Homo sapiens: one gene and its partner. The protein of the gene in region 2 purifies or fractionates together with the protein of the main gene of each other region. This does not show direct contact. Each region holds a gene or a part of one and is shown on either strand. Other genes may lie near its edges.

What was found. The genes of interacting proteins can lie anywhere in the genome.
Region 1: the proteins of MYH4 (region 2) and SORCS2 purify together in Homo sapiens (affinity purification with mass spectrometry; one large-scale study listed by BioGRID and IntAct). This does not show direct contact.

Annotation. Positions count from the first base shown.
Region 1 is NC_000004.12:7,720,538-7,724,037, reverse strand, and holds part of SORCS2 (VPS10 domain-containing receptor SorCS2), read right to left. Parts: intron 342-3,500; coding exon 155-341; intron 1-154. UniProt on the Homo sapiens protein: The heterodimer formed by NGFR and SORCS2 functions as receptor for the precursor forms of NGF (proNGF) and BDNF (proBDNF). ProNGF and proBDNF binding both promote axon growth cone collapse (in vitro).
Region 2 is NC_000017.11:10,459,402-10,463,256, forward strand, and holds part of MYH4 (myosin-4), read right to left. Parts: intron 3,788-3,855; coding exon 3,689-3,787; intron 3,568-3,688; coding exon 3,464-3,567; intron 1,654-3,463; coding exon 1,515-1,653; intron 921-1,514; coding exon 802-920; intron 701-801; coding exon 551-700; intron 21-550; coding exon 1-20. UniProt on the Homo sapiens protein: Muscle contraction.

The DNA.
Region 1 (3,500 bases), on a different chromosome or scaffold from region 2:
TGAGCCCAGCCTCCCTGCCTCCCTGCCCTCGGGTTCACCGTCCTGAGTACCAGGGGCCTAGAGCAATCCCGGGGGCTTCCCTGTGTTTCCCCCAAAGCCAGGTTCTCTCTCTCAAAGGGAGTGACCTTTGGCCTCAAAGGGGCAATAAACTTACAGTTGACCTGGACAAAGAGCACCGCCTCATCGTGGCCTGCCGTGTTCTCTGCCCTGACGGACACGCGGTAGATGCCGGGGCTCTCGTAGCGGTGCCGGATGGGCTCCCCGGTCAGTGTAAGGTTCACGTACATGGCCTTGAAGCCGTCCCCAAGGTCTACCTGGTACTTGGTAGTCAGGACATCACCCTGCAGAGAAACACCATGTGGCCACTCAGGAGTGGGCCTTGAAGCTGAGGGGCCAGAGTGGTTCATTCACTCACTCACTCACTCACTCATTCATTCATTGCCGCCCTCCCTTCCTTGACATGAGTGGGCTCTGGGGACCCACAGGAGACCGGGCCTGGTTCTGCCCTGGAGATTCTTCCTGGAGTATGGGGCTGACCAAGGCAGCTGGTTTAACTAGGGGCTGTGGCCAAGGGATATTTCAGAACAATCACCCAGCGGCAGAGAGGGAGAGGGAGAGGCCCAAGGGTGTCATCAGAGAGCAGCTGGGGGGCAGTCAGGGCCCGGGGGAGACCCACAGAGGCCCGTGCTAGGGATGGAGCCAGGAAGGTGAGGGGCCTCCCACTGCGAGGAGGGTTTCGGCAGGGGAGAGGAACACATCTGGAAGTGCCTAAGCCGCCTGCCTGGAAACCAAGCAGGATTTTCCTTTCTGGGAAGCTGCGGTTCTTAATTTTCTCTTTCTCAGACCATGCGGTACCAGGAGTGACGCTGAGATGGGGCAGGGTGAGTGCAGAGAGGAGCTCCCACCAACTGCCATCCCCGCGTGGCACCGAGTCACCCAGAGAGGCCGCTCCACCATCTCCTTCCACCTTCCAATAACCGCATTTCCCTCGCAGAGGTGGGGGATTGAGTGAAGGAAACAGGAACTTCTTCGATTTATGGCTCATGATCACATTCTCCCTCCCTCCCTTCCTCCTCTCCTCCCCTTCCCTCTTCCTCCCTCGCCGGCACCAGGGGCACGAGGAAACCGTTTCCTAGTGATGATGGAGGAAACAGCGTGATTACTAACCACTTAGCCATCTTCTCAGTTTATACCAGCCAAACGTTGTAAGTTGATAGAAAACTTTTACGTAAATTCTGTTCACTTAACTTTCTCCACAGATGTGGTAAATTGAGCTGGTCAGTGTCTCCCCAAAATTCACGTCTACCGGGAACCTCAGAATGTGACCTCATTTGGAAATAGGGTCTTTACAGGTGTCATTAGCTAAGATGAGGTCATACTGGATTAGGGTGGGCCCTAAATCCAGTGACAGGCATCTGTGTAAGAGAAAGGAGAGGGAGATTTGGGCACGGACAGAGGCTGCGTGGAGGTGAAGGCAAAGGCAGGAGTGACTCTGTCAGGGGCCAAGGAGTGCCGGGAGCCCTGGAAGCTGGAGGAGGTGCAAATGGATTCTCCTTCGGAGACTTGTGTGGGTTCAGGCCACCCGGCATGAGATAATTTGTTATGGGGTCCCTAGGAAGGAGGCTGCAGGGTGCTCCGTTCTCCCCATTTGACAGGTTAGAAGACTGAGGCTCTCCAAAGCCCAGGACCCAGGAGGCTGCTCGCTGGTTGTGGTTCTTTCTGTTTAAAGGCAGCCTCTCAGGGAGGGGCGGGGAATGAGGGGAAGCGCTCAAGTCTGAGCTGCTTCCACGGAGGGAAGTGTTTCCTGTGCTAATCCTGGGAAGGAGAAGGCATGTGTGACCCAGAGTCAGGACTCGTGATCCGCTCAACCTGGGTGAGGCGCCACCTCTCGGGGCCTTGTGTTCCTGCCTTCAAGGGCTGCGCTGATGCACATTTAACTTCTTAAACATTTCAGTTGGTTAAAATAACTTGTCTTTTTCTCCTGACCACAAAAGTAGTATATTCTCAAGGTAGAAAATAATATAAAATACAAATAGTAAAGCAAAGAAAAAGAACAAAACTAAATCTCACCATAATACCCTCCATTCACATCCTGGTATATTTCATTTATATCCATTATTATTACTGGTGCTTAAAGAAAAATTAAACATTGTCTTCTGAGATAATGGTAGGCTCCTATGTAGTTGTACGGAATGATACAGATCCACCCTGTGTGCCCCGTACCCGGCTCTCCCCAAGGCTAACATCTTGCCAAATGATAGTATCACGACTAGGAGGTTAACACTGATACAGGAAAGAGACAGGACAATTCAGCCAGCACTAGGACCCCACCGGGTGCCCTTTGCAGACACACCCACTTCCGCACATTAGCCCAACTCCATGGTAACCATTAGTCTTTCTCCATTTCTATAACTTTGATAATTTCTATTCTCTTTCTCCATTTCTGTATTTCAGGAGTGTTATATGAATGAGTGGCACAGCAGGGGATCATGTGGGAGTGGCTTTTTTCACTCGGCATAATCCACTTGAGGCTCATCCAGGTTGAAGCAGGTATTACTATTATTTTTTTTTTAAGACGGGATCTCACTCTGTTGCCCAGGCTGGAGTACAGTGGTGGGATCTTGGCTCACTGCAACCTCCGACTCCCAGGTTCAAGTGATTCTTGAGCCTCAGCCTCCCAAGTAGCTGGGATTACAGGCATGCATCACCACACCTGGCTAAGTTTTGTTTTTTTTAGCAGAGACAGGGTTTCGTCATGTTGGCCAGGCTGGTCTCGAACTCCCGACCTCAGCTGATCCACCCACCTCGGCCTCCCAAACTGCTGGGATCACAGGCGTGAGACACCGTGCTGGGCCCTGCTGCAGGTATTAATAATGGATTCCTTCTCACTGCAGCATGGTATCTCAGCATGGGGGCACCCCAGCCTGTGCATTCACCCACTGCAGGGCACCTGGGCGGTTTGAGTTTCTGGCCTTTGTGAATAACACTGCTATGAACAGACACATACAGGTTTTTGTGTGAACAGAAGTCTTCATTACTCTGATATGACCGCCATGAGTGCAAGTGCTCAGTCCTCTGGTCGTTGCATGTTGAGTTCGTTAAGAAACTGCTGAAGTGTTTTCCAGAACACCTGTGGCATTCTCCAGTCTCCCCAGCCATGCGTAAGTGATCCAGTGTCCTTCCCTGCATCCTCACCGGTACTTCATGCTGGCGCTATTTTTAATGTCAGCCATTCTGATAGGTGCGCAGTGATGTCTGGCTGTGGGCTTCCCTGGCGGCTGATGGCGTTTGTCATCTTTTCGTGTGCTTACCTGTCATTTGTCCATTCTCCTGGTGAAACGTCTTTTCAGTTCTGCTCATTTCCTAACTGGACGGTTTGTTTCCTTGCTGTTGAGTGTTCTTCCTCTAGTCTAGGTACTGGTCCTTGTTGGATATGTGGTTTGCAAATACTTTCTCTCACTCTGTAGCTTGCCTTTCATCTTCTTAACATGGGTGTTTCA
Region 2 (3,855 bases):
AGCTGCTCCAGGCTGTTGAACTACAGAACAAGATAAATATAGGAAATTACGCATAACAAGTATTCTATCTACAGAGTATCTATTAGTATTTTCTTCTGAATTTAAGGCATTTTGGTTTATTAAATTATAAACCTTCAGATTGTTTTCCTATTATATAGTTCTAAACAAAGTAGAATTGATTCTTTGAATACTTATTTTCCAAGTAACTGCATGAGATCATGCATACTAGGCAAAATACTGTTAAATGAGGACTCTGAAATATTTCCTTAGAGTAATTTTAAAAAGGTGTTCTCATGCTCATCTGCTTGGATCCAGGATAGATTTTGACTATTTTAACCTCTCAGGGATCAACTTTTGAGACTTCTAGACTCAAAAGAATAGAATTTTCTCTTTTCCTATTTATACCTATTTACTTTTCATATCTTTTCAAAGACTCCTTTCAGTAGGAATTACATTTGTATATTTTGTAAGGTACATTTTGTAAATGTGATTTTGTATGCTCTAACAAGAGGATTTGCACTGGCTAATTTTCTGTCAGTTCACTACTCACATCAAAGATCTCAAAGCCAGCAATGTCCAAGACCCCGATGAAGTACTGCCTGGGCTGCTTGGTGTCCAGCTGCTGGTTGATGCGGGTGACCATCCACAGGAACATCTTCTCGTAGATGGCTTTGGCCAGAGCACCCACTGCATTGTACACCTTCAACAGAAGTGATAGTTTAGTTTTTTAAATTGAAAACAGTGATGAACTCCTGAGTCACTTGCGGTTCAAATAAATCAGACAATTTAAGTCATGTTTACCTGCTGCACAGTCTGGCCTTTGGTTACGAACTCATTGCCGACCTTGACTCTGGGATAGCAGAGAGATTTGAGCAGGTCAGCAGAGTTCAGACTTGTCAGATAAGCAGCTTTGTCAGCAACTGTGTGAACAAGGTGAGAATGGTGAAACTGACCATGGCTTACACAATTTAAAATGTAAATGATGATGACAAAGAAAAAAGGTTTCACTCAAAAAGTAAGATGTGCAAATGTCATTGAAACCTTTTCATTTGTTCATATTGCCTCAAAAGCATTGCCACCACTTGCACTAATTTTAGTCATTTCTTGTGATGATAAATTGGAGGTTGGGGAATCGATGCTGTCTGTGATATTTAACCTGGCAAAAGTAGACCACAGATAAAAATAATTTGAGAAACCCTAACCTAGAGGAGTAGTGACAGAAATATTCAGATCTCTGTTTCTTTCAGTGCCTGTGGGCACACAGATTATCCTGAAATAAAATATGTTTTAGTCAAATAGCAAATATGAGCTTATGAAAAGCCAATGAATAATGGAATGAGCAGAAATCACAAATCTGCTAAATAATGTAAAACGTCAGGCAGTGTGTAATTTCCTTCTCGTAATACTTTTGCCCTTCACGAGCTAGGTCAGAGAAAGTAAAAACACGGTCCCTGCCTCTGAAAAGTTCACTATGTCAGCTTTGTCAAGTGGAAGATACCAACAGGGGGTGGTACCTTCCGTGCCATCTGGCTCTGCCTGCTCTTCCCTTTGCTTTTGCTTGAATTTCATGTTCCCATAATGCATCACGGCTCCAGTGAGCTTGTAAATGGCCACCTTTTCATCAGCAGTGAAACCCAGGATGTCCACAGCACTCTGTCAAAAGAGTTGAATTTGCTCATCCCCAATTAGCACCATGGAAGAATCCCTCAGAACACCGGGGCTGTCTCCCACTTTTTTCTCATCACGCCTTGCCTTATATTTGACTAGCACTTTGCCATCTTCAAAAGGTACTCATATGCTTTACCTTTTGATCCACATGGCAACACGAAGAGGTATGCATCAGTCTTTCCATTTGAGTCATGAGTCCATTTGGTCACAGCATATGATGTGACTTGTCCACACTCACTGAACCAGGACTAAGAGCCATGACTTTTGATGCCAAGGCCAGTGCTTTGCCCCTTTTCTCCACCCCAGCCCCCCTTTGCTTCTCAGGCACATGCTCCTCTTGGTCTTTTGGCTATTTTTGTTTCTTTTCTCCAGTCTCACGAGTCTCTCTGTTGCTCCTTCTTCTCCTATTTGTCCTATCCTAATGCATAATCCCAGTCTACCTTCCCCTGCTAATGGGCATGAGTGATAAAGTTGGAAAGAGGGTATGAGGAGAACAGCAATGGTTGTGAGTCTTTCTCCACATGCCTCTCTGATAGCAAGCCACAGCTCAGCGACCACGAGATGCCTGGGGTAGCAAACTTTACCTAGTTATTTATTTCTCATGCAGAGAAGAGACATTTATGAAAAGAAGGAATTTTGCCATTTAGTATAATATTTCTGTGTCTTTTTTCTCTATCGAATTTTGATTACCTTTTTAGTTGCCCACATAGGCTTTGAAAAGGCTTATAAATGGGGGCAGGATTCAGAGCAGGCAGAGGAAAATATGTTTATTTACCATTCTTACCTAAGACTCTTTCCCCAGATTATTGACTTCCACTTCCAGCTCACTAACTCTACCTATTTACAGAAACTAGACATTATTACGGAAGTCTTAGAGCAAGACTGCTACATTTTTTTAACCTCGCAGACCAGGGTGTGTTTCTTAACTCCCTATCACTTTTGGACATACAAAGATAATAATAAGTTATAGAGAGTTAAAGCTGATATTTATAATATAAAGCCACACAAATGAATTATTGACTTCTTGAAAATAATATTTTAATAGAAAAAGCAGTTTTGCAAGCACTGTCAACTCTAACTTGGGGGTATTGGGATAGTCCCACTGATATTAAAGTTAAAAATAAGGAAGATTATTCAGAAATCAAAAGAAAGCATGAAATATACATAAAGTTTACATATAAAGAAAGTAAGCCAAAAAGCAATAATCCTTAAAAAAGAGGTGATGGTGGGGAGAGAGTGCGTTGTTTCAAAAATAAATATAAAGGCTTATGGAGTCCCCAAAATGAGTGTTTTTGAAGTAGACAACCCACTTCTTCTAATGCTGCTTAGGGAGTAGAGAGGGATATATCATTGGCCCACAGAGGTTTATTCAAAATAAGGCTTATGTTTACATGTGACTGTAGAAGAACAGTGGGAGTTCCATGTTTAGTTGTAATAATATTGCAGCTCCTTCCCAGAATCTTGGGTGTGAGGTGTGGCATAAAATAGCAGAGAAACATTAATATTGGAGCATAAATATCAACCAAAAATGACTAATAAGAAAGATAGAATGAAAGGAGCCTACTAGCTAAGGAATACTAAAGACCCAACATTTATTACAGGCAGTGAAAGCTTTTTAACACATGTAGGGGGAGGGTATTGAAATATCCTACAATTTTTTTCCAAAAGTAAGAAAGCCCAAAGGGTTGTATTACCTATTTATAGTCTTTCTGCCACTGCTTTCCACCCTAATAGAGGAGAGTGTTGTACACTGGAAAATGAATTTACTTTTTACTACTTTGTACCTATTACTTACATCTGTGGCCATCAGCTCTTCCTGGTCATCAATGCTGGGCACAGTAATTTCCCCTTGGCTGACAAATGCGAAGTCATATGGGTTGGTGGTGATCAGAAGCATTTCTGAACACATGGAAAAGAACAGTATATAGACAGCATTGCTTTGGTCATCAAAAACATTTCAGAGAGGCTTCTTAGAAGGGCTGTTATTCTTTGGTAGAAATAAATCAAAGATGTGTCTTACCAATGAGCTCTGGTTTCTTATTGGACAGGATTTGATAAAATATGTGGTAGCTTCTTTCAGCCTTTAGCTGAAAAGTAACTCGGGACTTCTCTAGCAGATCTGGAAGTCAGATTAAGCTCATTTAAAAGAAGATGCCACAGTGAAAAATTAAGTGTTTGAAAATTTCA